Linked DNA regions of Homo sapiens: region 1 is linked to region 2. The links come from fine-mapping of genetic effects on gene expression. A gene starts in region 2. The other region holds a variant in brackets. All regions are shown on one strand. Distances are from middle to middle. Region 1 overlaps ARFGEF2 (ARF guanine nucleotide exchange factor 2). Region 2 holds the start of CSE1L (chromosome segregation 1 like).

Region 1 (9,162 bases), 60 kb before region 2:
TAGAATTTTCAGCTTTTCTGCTCTGGTGTCTCCCCATCTTTGTGGTTTTATCTATCTTTGGTCTTTGATGCTGGTGACCTACAGATGGGGTTTTGGTGTGGATGTCATTTTATTTGTTGATGTTGCTATTCCTTTCTGTTTGTAGCTTTCCTTCTAACAGTCAGGTCCCTCAGCTGCAGGTCTGTGGGAGTTTGCTGGAGGTCCACTCCAGACCCTGTTTGCCTGGGTATCACCAGCAGAGGCTGCAGAACAGCAAATATTGCAGAACAGCAAATATTGCTGCCTGATCCTTCCTCTGGAAGCATCGTCCCAGAGGGGCACCCGCCTGTATGAGGTGTCAGTCGGCCCTTTCTGGGAGGTGTCTCCCAGTTAGGCTACATGGGGGTCAGGGTCCCACTTGAGGAGGCAGGCTGTTCTCAGAGCTCAAACACCATGCTGGGAGAACCACTGCTGAGAGCTGTCAGACAGGGATGTTTAAGTCTGCAGAAGTTTCTGCTGCCTTTTGTTCAGCTATGCCCTGCCCCCAGAGGTAGGGTCTATAGAGGCAGCAGCCCTTGCAGAGCTGTGGTGGGCTCTGCCCAGTTCGAGCTTCACCAGCACTTTGTTTACCTACTCAAGCCTCAGCAATGGCAGACACCCCTCCCCCTGCCAGGCTGCTGCCTCACAGGTCAATCTCAGACTGCTGAGCCAGCAGTGAGCAAGGCTCCGTGGGCGTGGGACCTGCTGAGCCAGGCACAGGATATAATCTCCTGGTGTGCCATTTGCTAAGACCATTGGAGAAGTGCAGTATTTGGGCAGGAGTGTCCCGATTTTCCAGGTACAGTCTGTCATGGCTTCCCTTGGCTAGGAATGGAAAATCCTCCGACCCCTTACGCTTCCCGGGTAAAGCGATGCCCCGCCCTGCTTCAGCTCACCCTACGTGGGCTGCACCCACTGTCCAACCAGTCCCAGTGAGATGAACCAGGTACCTCAGTTGGAAATGCAGAAATCACCGTCTTCTGCGTCGATCACACTGGGAGCTGCAGACCGGAGCTGTTCCTATTTGGCCATCTTGGGACGGAATCTTACTTGTTTTATTTACGTATATATTTTTCTGAACCATTTTGAAAGTAATTGGTAGCCATCATGAGACCTTAACTGAATCTCTTTGAAAAATAAAGGACATTCTCCCATATAACCACAGCACCATCATCACAATCATTGGCAAATCTTTATGTTTCTTTCCAGTCTTTTACACACATCAACACATACACAATCATATATTCCAACTTGTAAATGATTAGTTAACTTAGTAAGTTCAACTTAAGAGTTGAAATTACAGTACTCACTTATTAACTGACATGTTTGATCTTCTCATTTCTACTGCCGCCACTCCACCTCCCTCTAGTGTATTCTGCCCACAGCAGCTAAAGTAATCTTTTTAAAACATAAATCAAGTCTTATCACTCTCCTGCCTAAATCATTCCAGGTTTCCTGTTCTGCACCATGGCCTGACCCAGCCCCTGGCCTCCCTTGCTGATCTCATCTCCTGCCAATTCCCCTGAGTCACACAATGTATTTTCAGTCCCTTGAACACCTTCAGCTCTTTTTACCATGGTGCCTTGTGCTTGAAATTCTCTTGGCTTTTTTCCATCCCTCAGACTTGGTAAAACATCTCTTACTCAAAGAGGCCTTCAGCAACTGCACTATCTAAACAGGTCCCAAGTTAAGTTCTGCCCTTGCCCCTATTTGTATCTTTCATGACGCTTGCCAGTTTGTGCTTACTCATGAATATCACCCTCCAGCTCAGGCCTGGTAAATAATAAGTTGAGTCTATACATTGGTTAGCTTTGCCTTCCTTTAGCAGGAAATAAAAAATGGGCTGGGCATGGTGGCTCATGCCCGTTATCCCAGCACGTTGGGAGGCTAAGGTGGGAGGATCACTTGGAGTTCCAGACCAGCCTGGTCAACACAGTGAGACCCTGTCTCTTAAAAAAAAAAAAAAGTAGAGAAAGAAAAAAATAAATACAAAATAACATGCTTAACTATGTATTTCTCTCTCAAGGAAATCCAAAAGTGGACAGTCTAAGGCTGCTACGGTGGCCCTTAAGGACATCAGAGATCCAGGCTCCTTTTATCTGTCTGCTTCACCATACTTAGCCAGAGAGGGTGGCCTCATGGTATAAGATGACTGCTGGAGTACCAGCCATCCCACAAACATTCTGGAGAGGAGGAGGGAAAGAACAAAAAGAGAAAAAAGCAGACTTCCCACCTGAGTCAGCTTTGTTTAAGGGTCCTTCCTAGAAGTACCCACACCACTTCTGCTCATATCTCACTGGCTAGAAGTTTATCACATGGCCATCCTTTATTTAAGGGAGGCAGGGAAATGTTCTTTTTATTCCACATGGCAGTGTGTCCAGCTAACACGTAGGGTTCTATTAGTGTTGGAGAAGGGGAGAGTGGATATGAGGTGACAATCAGCAGACTCTGACCAGGTATAGCTGGGTCAGAAATTGAAGGTGGAATTTAGAAAAGCTGCCAGGACAGACATGACCTTGCTAGCTTATACGTGATGGCATGTTCATAGTATTCTATTATTATTTATCTCAAATACCAGCTTTTGCTATCCTCCAGATTTTGAAATAAGCAACTTGTGTCCCATCTCTGCTTGAAACAGGTTCAACAAGAAACCCAAGAGGGGGATCCAGTTTCTCCAGGAGCAGGGCATGCTGGGAACGTCAGTTGAAGACATAGCCCAATTCCTGCACCAGGAGGAGCGCCTGGATTCCGTAAGGCTTGGGGGTGTAGCACTTGCATGTGAGTTCTGTCAGGTGATTGTGAGCCCTTACCAGTTTTAACCTCGAGATTGTCTGGCCCTAAGTACATTGTCTGTTGTCCACCCCCGGGTTATACATTGTCTATTGTCCACCCCCGGGTTACAGCAGTCCTGTGTATCCCGTTGGCTAGTGTTGCAGAAAGCTCTTTGATGGGAATAAACTAGCCTCCCAGCAGGTGGCTGCATATTTGCTGGAAGAGAGTCAGAGCTGGAAGTGTTCCTTGACTGCTAGAAAGTTCTTACGGCTGCCTGTCTGCAACTAACCTCCTTAGTGTGCCCCGTCATTCTCTCCATTTTAAGTCTCTTGTGCCCCCTCCTCTTCCTTCATCCATGCAGGACAGGCTGCTTCTGGAATGGGTGGGTGGGTGGGCAGGTCAGGGAGTTCCCTAGCTTTTTTACCAGTCCAGCCTATTCTGGGCAGTTAGGGCCAGGCTATTCTGACTCCACCCTTTGGCTGCTGGCTTTTGCTGAGGGTTCGTATTTGACAATTTCTGGATATAAGTGAGTGTGTATGTTTCAGACCCAAGTAGGCGATTTTCTGGGAGATAGCGCAAGGTTCAACAAGGAGGTGATGTATGCCTACGTGGACCAACTTGACTTCTGTGAAAAAGAATTTGTCTCAGCCCTGCGGACATTCCTAGAAGGTTTCCGCCTACCTGGAGAAGCCCAAAAGATTGACCGATTAATGGAGAAGTTTGCCGCAAGATACATAGAATGCAACCAAGGGTGAGCGCCGATTTTGAGTCCCTTCCAGATCATCTGTTTGCCTGCCTCAGAACGCTAATTCTAATTTGGTTGGGGTTTAATCTTTGTATATCTGTGCCAAGCAACTGAAGCTTTTGTTTACCGTGTGCCAGGCACTGTGCTAAGGGATTATTTCACATAAGACCTCACAGCAACCTGTTTATGTCCCTATTCTACAGACAAAAAGATTGAGGACCAGAGAGGTTAACTTGCCCAAGATCACACAGCTAAAGCCCATGCTGTTAGCAACTATAAAAGAGTAGTTTCATAAGTTGAGAGGAGACAATTGGGCACCTCTTCCCTAATCAAAAACAGTTCCCCTGATTTAATATATGGGGTAGATCTCAAGGATTTTGGTTTTTCTTTAATTGCATACTGATGAGCAGGTTACAGAAATAGCTACATAACTAATAAAAACCACCAAAGTACATGATTTTATCTGGGGACCTTTTTTGATGGGCGGTTCGTGATTTTGTAAGAAGTGGAAATAGGAAGGGGAACAAACCATTATTAAATACCTCCTGTGTGTGGGCCATGCCATGGGTTTTACATGCATTTAATTTAATTAATGGCAAGCCCAGGAATAGTATCCCTGTTTTACAGATGAGGAAATTGAGAATCTGAGAGATTGAGCAACCTGTCCAAAATTAATCAGCTAGTAAGGAGCAGAGCCAGGGTTGAATATGGATTTCTCTAACTCAGAAGCTCATGTTCGGGCTGGATGCAGTAGCTCTTGCCTGTAATCCCAGCACTTTGGGAGGCCGGGACGGGCAGATCACTTGGGGTCAGGAGTTCGAGACCAGCCTGGCCAATATGGTGAAATCCCGTCTCTTCCAAAAATACAAAAAAAAATTAGCTGGGTAATCCCAGCTGCTCAGAGGCTGAGGCAGGAGAATTGCTTCAACCTGGGAGGCAGAGGCTACAGTGAGCCGAGACCACACCACTGCACACCAGCCTGGATGACAGAGGCAGACTCTGTCTCAAAAAAAAAAACTCATGTTCTCTCCACTGAACATTAAATTAGAAATATGTCTGAATATGCTGTGACCATGATGTGGAAATTGTTCAGTGG[A/G]AACTATTTTTTTTGAGACAGGGTCTTGCTCTCTTGCCCAGGTTGAAGTACAGTGGGGTGATCACAGATCACTGCAGCCTGGATCTCCTGGGCTCAATCAGTCCTCCCACCTCAGCCTCCTGAACTGCTGGGACTACAGGTGCATGCCACTGTGCCTGGCTAATTTTTTGTATAATATTTCTGCAGAGATAGAGTTTCACCGTGTTGCCCAGTCTGGTCTTGAACTCCTAGCCTCAAGGGATCCTCCTGCCTCAGCCTCCCAAAGTGGGGGATTTACAAATGTGAGCTACCACACCTGATTGAAACATTTTAATAACTGTTTTGCCTCTCAGGTCAACTTTGTTTTCATATTAATTGCTCCCAGTCTTCCAAGTGTATGGCAGGCTGTCCCCAGGAGGTGGCAGGATTGGCAAAGGCAGCATATCATCATTTTAACCAAATGGACATTAGAACTCTCTATGAAGGCATAATTAGATGCTGTTTACTTTAAACGTATCTCCTATGTGGACCTGGGAGCCTTGGTCTGTTTTGCTCAGTCAGTAAATATGTGACCCAGTTTCATCTCATATTAAAAGACCTTTGTTGTGTTCTTCAAAATTTCTACTGTTCCTGTTATGGACAGTTTGGACAGAACAGTTTCTAGCTTCAGCCTCATATCGTATGAAGCTGTACATCCACATGTTGTCCTTCTCTTCTTGCCTAAGGCAAAAAAGTCAGACTTCACCAACATATTGTTTAGAACAACATAAATATTTTCCATGGTATTTCTACTATTAAATGTTATAATGGGTAATATAGACTATAAATAACAGCTAAACAGCAGTTTTAGTCATCTTTATATCTCATGTCTAGCACAGTACATGGCACAAAATAGATGTTCTCAGGAACAGGACAAGGTGGGGGAGGCACTCAAGCGCTTAGTGTGTGAAATATAGTGAGATGCCCTCTCTCAGGGTCAGCACCAAGTGTAAGGTCTCCTGATGTGCTCACTTGCTTCACCCTAGTCTTGGCCCCAGATGCTTCTTAGAGTCTTTTTAAAAAAAATTATTTGAAATTGCTTTATTCAAAGAAGCCTCAATTTTTATTATTTATTTATTTATTTTTGAGACAGTCTCGCTCTGTCACCCAGGCTGGAGTGCAGTGTCACAATCTCAGCTCACTGCAACCTCCACCTCCCGGGTTCAGGCAATTCTCCTGCCTCAGTCTCCCGAATAGCTGGGATTATGGGCACCCGCTGCCACGCCCAGCTAATTTTTGTATTTTTAGTAGAGATTGGGTTTCACCATGTTGGCCAGGCTGGTCTCGAACTCCTGACCTCAGGTGATCCACCCATCTCGGCCTCCCAAAGTGCTGGGATTACAGGCCTGAGCCACCACGCCCTGCCAAAGAAGCTAAAATTTGATACAGATTGTTAATGAGCTTTTTCTACACTCTGGGTTGCTAAGTCTTGTTCAGTGATGATGAAAGCGTAAAAACTCTTGCCTCATTTGGAATCAAGGGGAGTAGTCGGCTGCTTTTCTCGTGAAGTGTGTCTCTGTTAGCATTGTACCTTCCAAACCGCATCACCATGAATATTGATGTCTCGAATTTTTTTCTCCAGGCAAACTCTGTTTGCTAGTGCTGACACTGCTTATGTCCTAGCGTATTCAATTATTATGCTGACTACAGACTTGCACAGTCCTCAGGTAAAGCACTTTAATGATTTACATGTTGTATTAGCTAAATAAGTGGCTTTACTTGGGCAATTGGATGTTTTTTAAATGGTTTTTAATTTTTTTTAATTACAGGTAAAAAATAAAATGACGAAAGAGCAGTATATTAAAATGAATCGGGGTATCAATGATAGTAAAGATCTGCCAGAAGAGTATCTCTCAAGCATCTATGAAGAGATAGAAGGCAAGAAAATTGCAATGAAAGAAACAAAAGAGCTAACGATTGCAACCAAATCTACTAAGCAGAGTAAGGTCTAATGGCAAATTATTTCTTTTAGTTCTAATTTTTTAGTGTATCAGAATGCATGATTAAATACTCTGGTGATAAATTTAATGTGCATAGCTGGATATCTGAATAGGAAATGTGATTGAATTAATTATTGTGATTATGTTGGGACTTTTATAATGTCACTGTCTTGCTAGATTTCTGATGAGGAGCAAGAAGGAATTTAAAATTAGTAATCTGAGAACTAAATTACTCCCAAAAAGTGTTCTTTAAAACTTTTCTTTAATTCAGATTGTGTCCGCCTTGATTAGAATTCTATTAGTTATGGCCCCTGGGGAGCTGTCAGTTTCACTGTTTGAGAAGCAGCAAAGGGTAGTGGTTTAGAGTGTGGCTCTAGAGCCACACTGCCTTAGATCAAGTCCCAGCTCCTCTACTTAGTAATTGTATGACCCTGGGCAAGTGACTTACCCCCTCTGCCTCATTTTTCCCATCTGTAAAATGGTAATAATAATATTTGTAATGGACTCACGAGATGGTTGGGAGGATTTAGGAGTTAATCATTGTGCATCTTTTGAAACAGTGTATGGCATGTAGCCAGCCCTCAGTGACTGCTAGCCACACCTATCATGCTCTTACTTTACAGATGTAGCTAGTGAAAAGCAGCGGCGGCTGCTGTACAACTTAGAGATGGAGCAAATGGCTAAAACAGCCAAAGCTCTGATGGAGGCTGTGAGCCATGCCAAAGCCCCGTTTACCAGTGCCACTCACCTGGACCATGTCCGGCCAATGTTCAAAGTGAGTATCCTGAGAACTTAGCAAGCATGTGGCTAAGCCTGATTCTGAAGCTGGCCAGCGAGAAGTACTCTTTCCACGCTAAAACTCTGGATGTTATTGAAATCTTCCTTCCATGATAGCTGGTGTGGACGCCACTATTGGCAGCCTACAGCATCGGACTCCAGAACTGTGATGACACTGAAGTGGCCTCCTTGTGTTTGGAAGGCATCCGATGTGCAATCCGAATCGCCTGCATCTTTGGAATGCAGGTAGGTGTAAGTCAGCAACACTCCAGAGATACTGGTGGGTTGTGCTCTTTTAGATTTGGCAAAACTTAGAAATTATCAGAAATTTTCAGTTAATCAAGACTCTTAGCAAGCTACTTACTTATGCCTACTGACAAGAAATCCGTAGCTTTGTGATGACAGCTCGTTAGGGGCAAAAATGGAGATACGGATTAAAACTGTCTTTAAGAATGGGTAGGCTGGGCACAGTGGCTCACGCCTGTAATCCCAGCACTTTGGGAGGCCAAGGCAGGCAGATCACCTGAAGTTGGGAGTTCGAGACCAGCCTAACCAACATGGAGAAACCCCATCTCTACTAAAAATATAAAATTAGCCGGGTGTGGTGGTACATGCCTATAATCCCAGCTACTCGGGAGGCTGAGGCAGGAGACCGGCTTGAACCCAGGAGGTGGAGGTTGCGGTGAGCCGAGATCGCGCCATTTTACTCCAGCCTGGGTGACAAGAACGAAACTCCATCTCAAAGAAAATAATAATAATAATAATAGGTAGGGTCCAAGCTTCTTGACTGGATTTGACAAAGCAGACTTCGTGTTCATCTGCCTAACTTGCCTGCTTTGGTGCTTAAAAATACTATTTCCTTTTTAACATCAGTTTTTATTATAATTTCGCATATTTCCAACTCTTCCCTGGAGAAACAAGTAGTTCAATGCAATATGAATATGTCTGTAAACCTTTGAAACTTGAAAAGTTCAAGCAAATAAATGAAATGTAATTCTGAAACTGTTACGAAATTAGGAGGTTGACAATCCCATGCATCACTTTGTAAGTCAGAAGTTGCACCCCATTTATTTTTAAAAACTCAATCTTCTGTTCCTATTCATTTTACAGTTAGACATTTTCTTTTATACCAAGACCACAAGCTTTGACGTTAGACCATCTAGGTTTCAAGACCCCACTCTGCCACCTCTCCAACCATGTGACATTGGCTCAGCTAAAGTCTCTCTGAGACACCAATTCATTTCCTCATTTGTAAACTTGAGAAAACAGACCTGCCTGGCAGAATTGTTGCAGATGTCAATTTGTGTGACAGTCTTAGTATTCAACAGACATAGTGGAACATGGGACAGGTGAGTTTGACTGAAGTCAATTAGAAAGGAGAGAGCTGCTTCTCAAACATGTGGCAGTGCATAGATACCTCTGCAAGATGTTCCAAAAGCAAGAGGGCATTAGCATGGAATAACTGTTGTGCTAATGTGCAGAAAGCCAGTCAATGTGCATACAAAAAGTATCAGAGAAGCCCAGTGTGCCAGCCCTGCAGATGTGAGAATGGCCACACTAAGGTTGGAGTCACAGTGTTCTCTCTTGGGTTTCTGTTACAGCTGGAACGAGATGCCTATGTTCAGGCTCTTGCTCGCTTCTCCCTACTCACAGCCAGCTCCAGCATCACAGAAATGAAGCAGAAAAACATCGACACCATTAAGACGCTTATCACAGTGGCTCACACCGATGGCAACTACCTTGGGAATTCCTGGCATGAGGTACGTGTCTCTTTGAATTGCCTTTTCTCAGTTAGG
Region 2 (9,162 bases):
CTACAACTTATATCCTAATTAATAAAGGAGATTTCCCATTTTGTATGAGTAGATTTGTTTTTTTGAGATGGAGTCTCGCTCTGTTGCCCAGCTGGAGTGCAATGGTGCAATCTCAGCTCACTGCAACCTCTGCCTCCTGGGTTCAAGCAATTCTCCTGCCTCAGCCTCCCAAATAGCTGGGATTATAGGCACACAGTACCACGCCCGGCTAATTTTCATATTTTTAGTAGAGATGGGGTTTCACCATGTTGATCAGGCTAGTCTCAAACGTGTAGATTTTTATAACATATAAACATATATTTAAACAGAAATAAGCCAGGTGCAGTGGCTCACGCCTGTAATCCCAGCATTTTGGGAGGCCAAGGTGGGCAGATCACCTGAGGTCAGGTCAAGACCAGCCTGGCCAACATGGTGAAACCATCTCTACTAAAAATACAAAAATTAGCTGAGTGTGGTAGTGGGCGCCTGTAGTCCCAGCTACTTGGGAGGCTGAGGCAGGAGAATTGCTTGAACCTGGGAGGCGGAGGTTGTAGTAAGCCAAAATCGCGCCACTGTACTGTACAGCCTGGGCAACAGAGTGAGATTCCATCTCAAAAAAAAAAAAAAAAATTAAAGTGCCTCCATTTTAAAAAAGATAAGAAACAACAATCAGATACTTCTCAATGTTTAGCTGTTAACACTCTTCTGCATCTCAGTTGGGCTTTAAAAGCGAGATTGAGACATAAGACTTGTTCTTTCCCAGCATAACCAGATGTGTCCACGCCCTTCTGGATCCAAATAAAATGTAAAGTTATCTTCCTCAAGGAGCACACCATAGACAATGTGTCTTTTCAGAATGTCTTTCCTTACATTAGACAGATTGGGGTTTTTTTTGTTTTTGCGCGGGGGGACAGAATCTTGCTTTGTCGCCCAGGCTGGAGTGCAGTGGTGCGACCTCAGCTCACTGCAACCTCTACCTCCCAGGTTCAAGTGATTCTCCTGCCTCAGCCTCCCAAGTAGCTGGGATTACAGGCACCCACCACCACACCCGGCTAATTTTTGTATTTTTAGTAGAGATGGGGTTTCACAATGTTGGCCAGACTGGTCTCGAACTCCTGACCTCGGGTGACCCATCCTGTCCTCCCAAAGTGTTGGGATTACAGGCGTGAGCCACCATGCCCAACCTAGACAGATTGTTTTATAAGGGTTTAGAAAGAAAGGAAACTACATGAATGAGTACTTAGTCTCCTGCTCCTTGAAGTGGATGAATTGTTTTCTTTGGTTTCCAACACAGTCTGTTAAGAGTTGTAGCACGCCCCAAGAGTATGTGCATGTAGTGGAGCTGGGATGGGGAGGATTCCCAAGGGAATCTTTAGCTGTCACCCATGAACCATGCAGAGTGGAGAAGGACACTCAGCCTTTCTGTGGCTCTCACCTGCATGATTATTCTGGTGGCTGCAAAGGGCGATAGGCAGTAGGAGGAGACACCCCGTGACACCAAGAGCTGTGTCCAGACATGATCGTCTTGGCACAGCTTGAGGGTTTTCTACAGAAACTGGTAGAGATGCTAGACAGACACAAGATGCCAGCCAGCCTCCTTTGCGATTGGCTCTTAGAGGTGGAAAATGGTAAAGTCATCAGGCTCATTCTCCCTAGGACTAGAGGAACATGTTAATTATATTAAAGTAGATTAGTGGGCCGGGTGTGGTGGCTCACGCTTGTAATCCCAGCACTTTGGGAGGCCGAGGCGGGCGGATCATGAGGTCAGGAGATCAAGACCATCCTGGCTAACACGGTGAAACCCTGTCTCTACTAAGAATACAAAAAATTAGCTGGGCATGGTGGCGGGCGCCTGTAGTCCCAGCTGCTCGGGAGGCTGAGGCAGGAAAATGGCGTGAACCCAGGAGGTGGAGTTTGCAGTGAGCCGAGATCGCACCACTGCACTCCAGCTTGGGCAACAGTGTGAGACTCCGTCTCAAAAAAAAAAAAAAATGCAGATTAGAACGATTAAAATGATTACTGGTGATTACTGGTACTATTGCTGCAATAGTAAAAATACATCTTTTTCACCAATGTCTTTGTTTTTTTTTAAAATGTTCCACCGTCTTCTGACCATCATGGTTTATTTTTATTTTTATTTTATTTATTTATTTATTTTTTTAAGACACAGTCTCGCTGTCACCCAGGCTGGAGTGCAGTGGCTCGATCTCGGCTCACTGCAGCCTCTGCCTCCCAGGTTCAAGCGATTCTCCTGCCTCAGCCTCCTGAGTAGCTGGGACTACAGGCGCATGCCACCACATCTGGCTAATTTTTGTATTTTTGTAGAGACAGGGTTTTACCATGTTGGCCAGGATGGTCTCGATCTCCTGACCTCATGATCCGCCTGCCTCAGCCTTCCAAAGTGCTGGGATTACAGGCATGAGCCACCGTGCCCGGCCTCACCAATGTCTTTCACTCATGTATCTTTCTCCATGGACTTCACTTATTTATATATGGCATTTCATTCAACATGCAACAAACATTTATTAAGCAGCTACTGTGTGCCTAGTGCTGGGGGTACAGCTGTGAATACCATCAATATGGGGCTAGATGTGGTGGCTCACACCTGTAATCCCGGGGCTTTTTTTTTTTTTGAGATGGAGTTTCGCTCTTGTTGCCCAGGCTGGAGTGCAATGGCAAGATCTCAGCTCACCGCAACCTCTGCCTCCCGGGTTCAAACGACTCTCCTGCCTCAGCCTCCCAAGTAGCTGGGATTGCAGACGTGCGCCACCACACCCGGCTAATTTTGTATTTTTAGTAGAGACGGGGTTTCTCCATGTTGGTCAGGTCTCAAACTCCCAATCTCAGGTGATCTGCCTGCCTCGGTCTCCCAAATCACTGGGATTACCGGCGTGAGCCACCATGCCCAGCCCTATCCCAGTGCTTTAGGAGGCGGAGGTGGGAGGATCACTTGAGGCCAGGAGTTTGCCTGGGCAACATAGTGAGAGCTCATCTCTACAAAAAAATTCAAAATTAGCCAGGTGTGGTGGCAGGTGCCTGTAGTCCTAGCTACTCAGGAGGCTGAGGTGGGAGGATTGCTTTAGCCTAGGAGGTCGAGGTTGCAATGAGCTATGATTGTGCCATTGCACTGCAGCCTGGGTGACAGAGCAAGACCCTGCCTCTTAAAAGAAAAAAAAAAAAAAAAAAAAAGCCCTGGCCAGGCGTGGTGGCTCATGCCTGTAATCCCAGCACTTTGGGAGGCCAAGGCTGGCGGATCACAAGGTCAGGAGTTCAAGATCAGCCTGGCCAATATGGTGAAACCCCGTGTCTACTAAAAATACAAAAATCAGCGGGGCATGGTGGCGGGCACCTGTAGTCCCAGTAACTTGGGGGGCTGAGTCAGGAAAATTGCTTGAACCTGGGAGGCAGAGGTTGCAGTGAGCTGTGACAGCACCACTGCACTCCAGCCCTCCAGCCTGGGCGACAGAGCAAGACTCTGTCTTTAAAAAAAAAAAAAAAAAAGAAAAGCCCTTGCTGTATAGAATCCCTTAGGTTATGGATGGGGAGGAGGGCAGGGGTTTAGGAGGGGAGAAGCGGAAGGAGGAACAAAATAAAGAAGAGACAATTAGTTGGAGAGTGATAAATACCATAATGATATCATGGAACTAGGCTTACCAGATCAAACACTGGGCACCCAGTTCAATGTGAATTTCAGATAAGCAATGCATGATTTTTAAGTATAAATATGTCCTACACAGTATTTATACTAGAAAATTATAAATTTTTTTCTAAAATTTACATTGACCTGGGCAGCCTGCATTTTATTTGCTAAACCTGGCAACCCTAATTTGTGTGCTGGGTGGTGGTGAGTGGGCAATTTCAGATAGGCCTCTTTTGTGGAGGTGACATTTGAGCTGGAACCTAAATGTAAAGAAGGAGCCAATCATTCAGGAATCTAGAACATCCCAGCACAGGGAACAGCAAGTATAAATGCTCTAAAGTGGAAATAAGCTTGGAGCTTAGAGGAACAGGAAGAAGGTGGGGTGGCGGAGCTGAGTGAGGGTGAGGAGAGGAGGGAAGCGGAAGGTGATGAGGGCAGGCAGGCTGGCAGGGGCCAGATCCCATATGGTTTGTGGGCTGTAATAAGAGTACCAAAACTTACATACCAGGCCAGGCGCGGTGGCTCACGCCTGGAATCCCAGCATTTTGGGAGGCCAAGGTGTGCGGATCACTTGAGGCCAGGAGTTCGAGACCTGTCTGGCCGTGTCTCCCTCTAAAATAGAAGCTCCAAGAGGGGCAGGAAGTTCTCTTCCGTCTTAGACCCTATGTGCACGACCTTGGATCGATCAACATTGAACACCTCCTACGTGCCAAGCCCTGACATCAAAATGGGTCAGAAGCCAGCAGCCGCTCGCTGAATCTGTGTTCCTCTTTGGAAAACGAGAACCGTGAAGCCTGCTGGCATGGTCAGAGCCAAAGAGCATTGTCACTTGTGAGATCAGCGCAGAAACAGAGCGGGGCCCCGATTGGCCCTTCGAACTTGGGTGGGGCCAGAGCATTCCTGGCCCCGCCCCCTGCAGCGGGCCGCTCGCTCATGCGCTCTGGCCTCAGGCTCGCTGTCGCGCCATTTTGCCGGGGTTTGAATGTGAGGCGGAGCGGCGGCAGGAGCGGGTAGTGCCAGCTACGGTCCGCGGCTGGGGTTCCCTCCTCCGTTTCTGTATCCCCACGAGGTGAGGCGCGGGGCGTGCACGGCCTACCAGAGTGGCTCTTGGGGCCCAGCTGAGGAAGGGATGAGGCGCTCCCGGTACTAACGAGCGCTAGGGAGTGAGAACCGCGCCTCTGGGCGAGAGCGGAATGTGGGCCCGGGGTTCGGGTGGTGCGCTCAGGCAAGGTCTTCGGCTTCCCTAGGGAGCGCTTGCCGCGCCTCGCGGCATCCTAGGTCTCTGGCCCAGGTGCGGCGACCCCAGGGCCTGTGAGGGCTGAGGGCAACTGAGGCGCGGCCTAACGCGAGCCTGCGGATTGCCCGCCCTTTCCTCTCCATCACGGCGCTGATTGGCTGCGCCGCCGCCTCTCCGCTCGGGAAGGCCGCTCCTTATTGGTCGCGCTCGCATGTCCATTCTCTGCGACGGTGGCTGCTAGCCGCGCGAGCTGAGTGTGCGGCGGCGAGGCCTGCCCGGGCGGGGACTGCGGGCGCGTGGAGCTGCGGCTGCCTCGCGTCGTCCCTTGCCCTAACTCTAGTGAAGCCCCCGAACTCACCCTTCTCTAACCTCTGTACTTGTATCCCTGACTGTAAAACGGGCATCGTGATCTCACTTTGCTGAATTGTTTGTGAGAATTCTAGTCGGTACACCCGGGACATAGAAATCCCCTGTAACGCGGGTTGGGGGAGGGTTCCCTCGTTTTGGGAGAAACGCTGTGCTGTGGTGGTTCGGAGCATAGACTTTGGAATTAGATCGCCTGGGTTCATTCCAGACGTAGCCTCTCGTTAGGGGTGTAACTTGAGGCTGGTCACCTCATCTCACTGAGCCTCCATTTCCTTAGCTGCAAAATGGGGTTAATAACAGAATCTACCTCGGAAAGTGGCTTTGAGGATGCGCTGAGTTATTTACCGTGGTTTACAAAGGTTCCCTGGGAGCTGACGGTTGTTTATTCATCTCTCCCACCCATCTTTCTCCTTAGCCAGTGTGGCTTTCTGTTTCTTCCATATTCCAGGGTTATTCCGATTTAAAATTATTTGCACATGCCTTTTGTTTGCTGGGGAAGTACCAACATTTTTGCAAGGCAGGCCGCCTCTCCCAAGTTTCCCTCACCTTAGGCCTCCCCTAACCAACCTCTTCTTTTGTTTTCTTTTTCTTTTTCTTTTCTCTTTTCTTTTTTTTTTTTTTTTTTTTTTTTTTTTGAGAGAGAGAGTCTCGCTCTGCCTCCCAGGCTGGAGTGCAGTGGCGCGATCTCGACTCACTGCAACCTCCGCCTCCCGGATTCAAGCGATTCTCCTGCCTCAGCCTCCCGAATAGCTGAGACTACAGGTCTGAGACTACACGCCACCACACCCGGCTAATTTTTGTATTTTTATTAGAGACGGGGTTTCACCATGTTGATCAGGCTGTCTAATCAACCTGTCTAGGACCTTTCTCCCATGGCTCTCCATCAACATCACCTGGTTTTAGTTACTTCATAGCATTTACTAACACTTACTTATTGCTTACTTGTTATCTTTCTCAACTGCTAGAATGTAAGCTGTTTGAGAGCAAGGACCTTGTCTGTCTTGCTTACTTCTCTCTCCCTGGTGGGTGCCATCCCACCTGTGCTTGCCACATGGTAGATGCACAAGTATTATTCTTCCTTGGAGGCACAGAAGGGGACCCTTTAGTCTTGGATTCCACCAATTGCTCTTTTTCTCACCTTGGGCCCACATAGTCATATCTTTGGCCTTTCTCTGTGTGTGTCTCTCTCTTTTTTTTTTTTTTTTTTGACATGCTTTCAGAGGATCCTAATGGACCTCGTCTCTCCGCTCCTACAACCCTTTATCTTTCACTTCTTACCATCAGTGCAAGGGAAGTCTCTCTCCCCTTCTGATTACTTCTGCTGGTTGGGGTCTGGGACAGGATTGGATGGATGCAAGAGCAGTGCTCTAGTTTTGGAATTAATTTGTTTCTTTATTCATTTAATAACTTTATTGAGCATCCACTTAATCTCTGGGAATATAGTGAAAAAACAAAAATGGACAAGGTCCCTTCCCTTGAGGACCATGTATTCTCGTGGGCGAAAGAAAAAACATTAGATAATTTCAGATAGTGACAGAATTATGTGACAGGTGAAGAAGGCTTTTCTGAGGAGGTGACATTTGGGTAGAGACCAGCCATTAAAAGGTGAGGGGCAGAACATTCCAGGTAGAGGGAATAGAAGGCTCAAGGCTCAAGGACAGGAACCGGCTTGGAATATTGAAATATTTAAGGAATATCTTAGGTTCCTAGAGTGTTACATGAAGAAGGGAGAAATATCCAGGACCCGGATCATAGAAGGCTTTGTAGGCAATGTAAGGAGTTTGGATTTGATTCTAAGTGGTATATTCCTATGGTTAGAAAGCAGAGGGTAGGTTGAGGTGTTGGGATATGTTCTTCATGTGTGGGTGCCAGATAGTTTTCATTCATTGGATCTCTTTCCCTCTTCCCAAATGTAAGGCCTCGGGAATGGTTCTCTAATGTGTTGAGGACATATCTAAGAAAAAGGCAGACATCTTGGATCAGCTTATGTCACAGATGTCTGTGAGATGGCTTTGGAAAACAAAGCTTTTATTCCAGAAATCTCCACCTGTAATTGAGGGCCTGTGGGAAGATGCTAGACTTAGGTCTGGCCATTCATTCAACAAGAAGAACTTGGAAATTTAGATGTCTGCCATAACTGATTTATTGTGATGCTTTTTTAAGTTTCTTAATTGTGTATTGGTAGAGATTTCCAAAGATAGTTACGTGGAGAAAGAAAAGTATCACCCCCTCATTTAAAGGTGATAAAAATGAATTCTTATCTTCTCCCTCCCTTTTTTTTTTGGAGACACCATCTCACTGTGTTGCCTGGGCTGACCTGGGCTCAGTCTATCCTCCTACCTCAGCCTCCCGAGTAGCTAGGACTACAGGCGTGCACCACCACACTCAACTAATTTTTATTTTTTTTTTGTAGAGATGGCACCATGTTGCCCAGGTTGGTCTCAAACTCCTGGACTCAACCAATCTGCTTACCTTGGCCCCCCAAAGAGCTGGGATTACAGGCATGAGCCACCCTACTTGGCCAAAATGAATGTTTTGTTTCTAGTTTGAGTCATTTTTAGATCAGTAACACTTTTTGCATTTATATATTGCTAATATTTCAGAGTGTCAAAGTACCTTTACTTGTGGTTGCATAAGATAATTAGAGCTTGATCTTGTTGATAATTATGAATACCTGTAAAATGTTCTCTAAAAGTCCCTGATTTCTCTTATTTTCTCAAATTAAGGATAAGCTTAGAATTCGGTTTTATAGACTATATCTGCAAGGCGATATAAAAAGGATTTGTTGACAAATAGTTCCTTAAAGAATATTCCCAAAGAATAAACTTTGGAAGGCCAAGGTGGGCGGATCACTTGAGCTCAGGAGTTCCAGACCAGCCTGGGCAACACTGGAACCATGTCTACAGAAACAACACAAAAATTAGCCAGGTGTGGTGGTGTGTGCCTGTAGTCCCAGCTACTTGGGAGGTTGAAGTAGGAGGATGGCTTGAGCCCAGGAGGCAGAGGTTTCAGTGGGCCAGAATTACACCACTGCATTTCTCCAGCCTAGGTAACAGACCCAGACCCTGTCTCAAAAAAGAGTATTAAGATTCTGGGATCTATGTAGTATTTTAACTTTGAGGGATTATAACATGCATATTTATATAACCCCTCACTTTTTTTTAAACTTAAAAATAGTCCTACCCTAGCATCTCAACTTAATCATTTTAGGTTTCATTCTATTATGTGGTTTTATTTATTTATTTTTATTTTATTTTATTTTATTTTATTTTATTTTTGGAGACAGGGTTTCACTCAGTCACCCATACTGGACTGCAGTGGCAAGACCTCAGCTTATTGCAGCCTAGACCTCCCGGGCTCAAGCAATCCTCCTGCCTCAACTTCCCTAGTAGCTAGGACCACAGGAGGGTATCACCAAGCCCAGCTAATTTTTTTTTTTTTTTTTTTTTTTTTTTGAGATGGGAGTTTCACTTTTGTTGCCCAGGCTAGAGCTAGAGTGCAATGGTGCAGTCTTGGCTCATTGAAACCTCTGCCTCCCGGGTTCAAGCAATTCTCCTGTCTCAGCCTCCTGAGTAGCTGGGATTACAGGCGCATGCCACCACGCCCGGCTAATTTTTTTTTTTTTGTATTTTTAGTAGAGACGGGGTTTCATCACATTGGTCAGGCTGGTCTCGAACTCCTGACCTCAGATGATCCGCCTGCTTCGGCCTCCCAAAGTGCTGGGATTACAGACGTAAGCCACCGCGCCCGGCCTGAGCCCAGCTAATTTTTAAAATTTTTTGTAGAGACAGGATCTCACTATTGTTGCCAAGTCTGGTCTTGAACGGTCCTTGGGGTCAAGTGATCGTCCCATCTCCACCTCCCAAAGTGCTGGGATTACAGAAGTGAGCCACCTTGCTCAGCCTGTTGTGGTTTTAGAATCTAGAAGGTTGTGTCCACC

Evidence for each region. PIP is the estimated chance that this variant, and not a neighbour inherited with it, causes the effect.
Region 1: its variant is the best candidate, but not a certain one, in a credible set for the expression of CSE1L in whole blood (INTERVAL, PIP 0.81).

The regions. Positions count from the first base shown.
Region 1 is chr20:48,982,073-48,991,234 of GRCh38, forward strand. ARFGEF2 (ARF guanine nucleotide exchange factor 2) reads left to right here. Exons shown (of 39, transcript NM_006420.3): 15 at 2,657-2,768; 16 at 3,336-3,541; 17 at 6,232-6,316; 18 at 6,419-6,590; 19 at 7,213-7,364; 20 at 7,484-7,612; 21 at 8,968-9,126. Among named protein-coding and RNA genes, the nearest start is that of CSE1L-DT, 59 kb to the right of the region's middle. The variant A/G (reference allele first, on the strand shown) is at 4,632.
Region 2 is chr20:49,041,736-49,050,897 of GRCh38, forward strand. CSE1L (chromosome segregation 1 like) reads left to right here and starts at 4,577. Exons shown (of 25, transcript NM_001316.4): 1 at 4,577-4,688. It overlaps CSE1L-DT (CSE1L divergent transcript), which reads right to left and starts at 4,321. Exons shown (of 2, transcript NR_110625.1): 1 at 4,125-4,321. RefSeq lists enhancers at 4,200-4,349, 4,900-4,969, 4,935-5,575.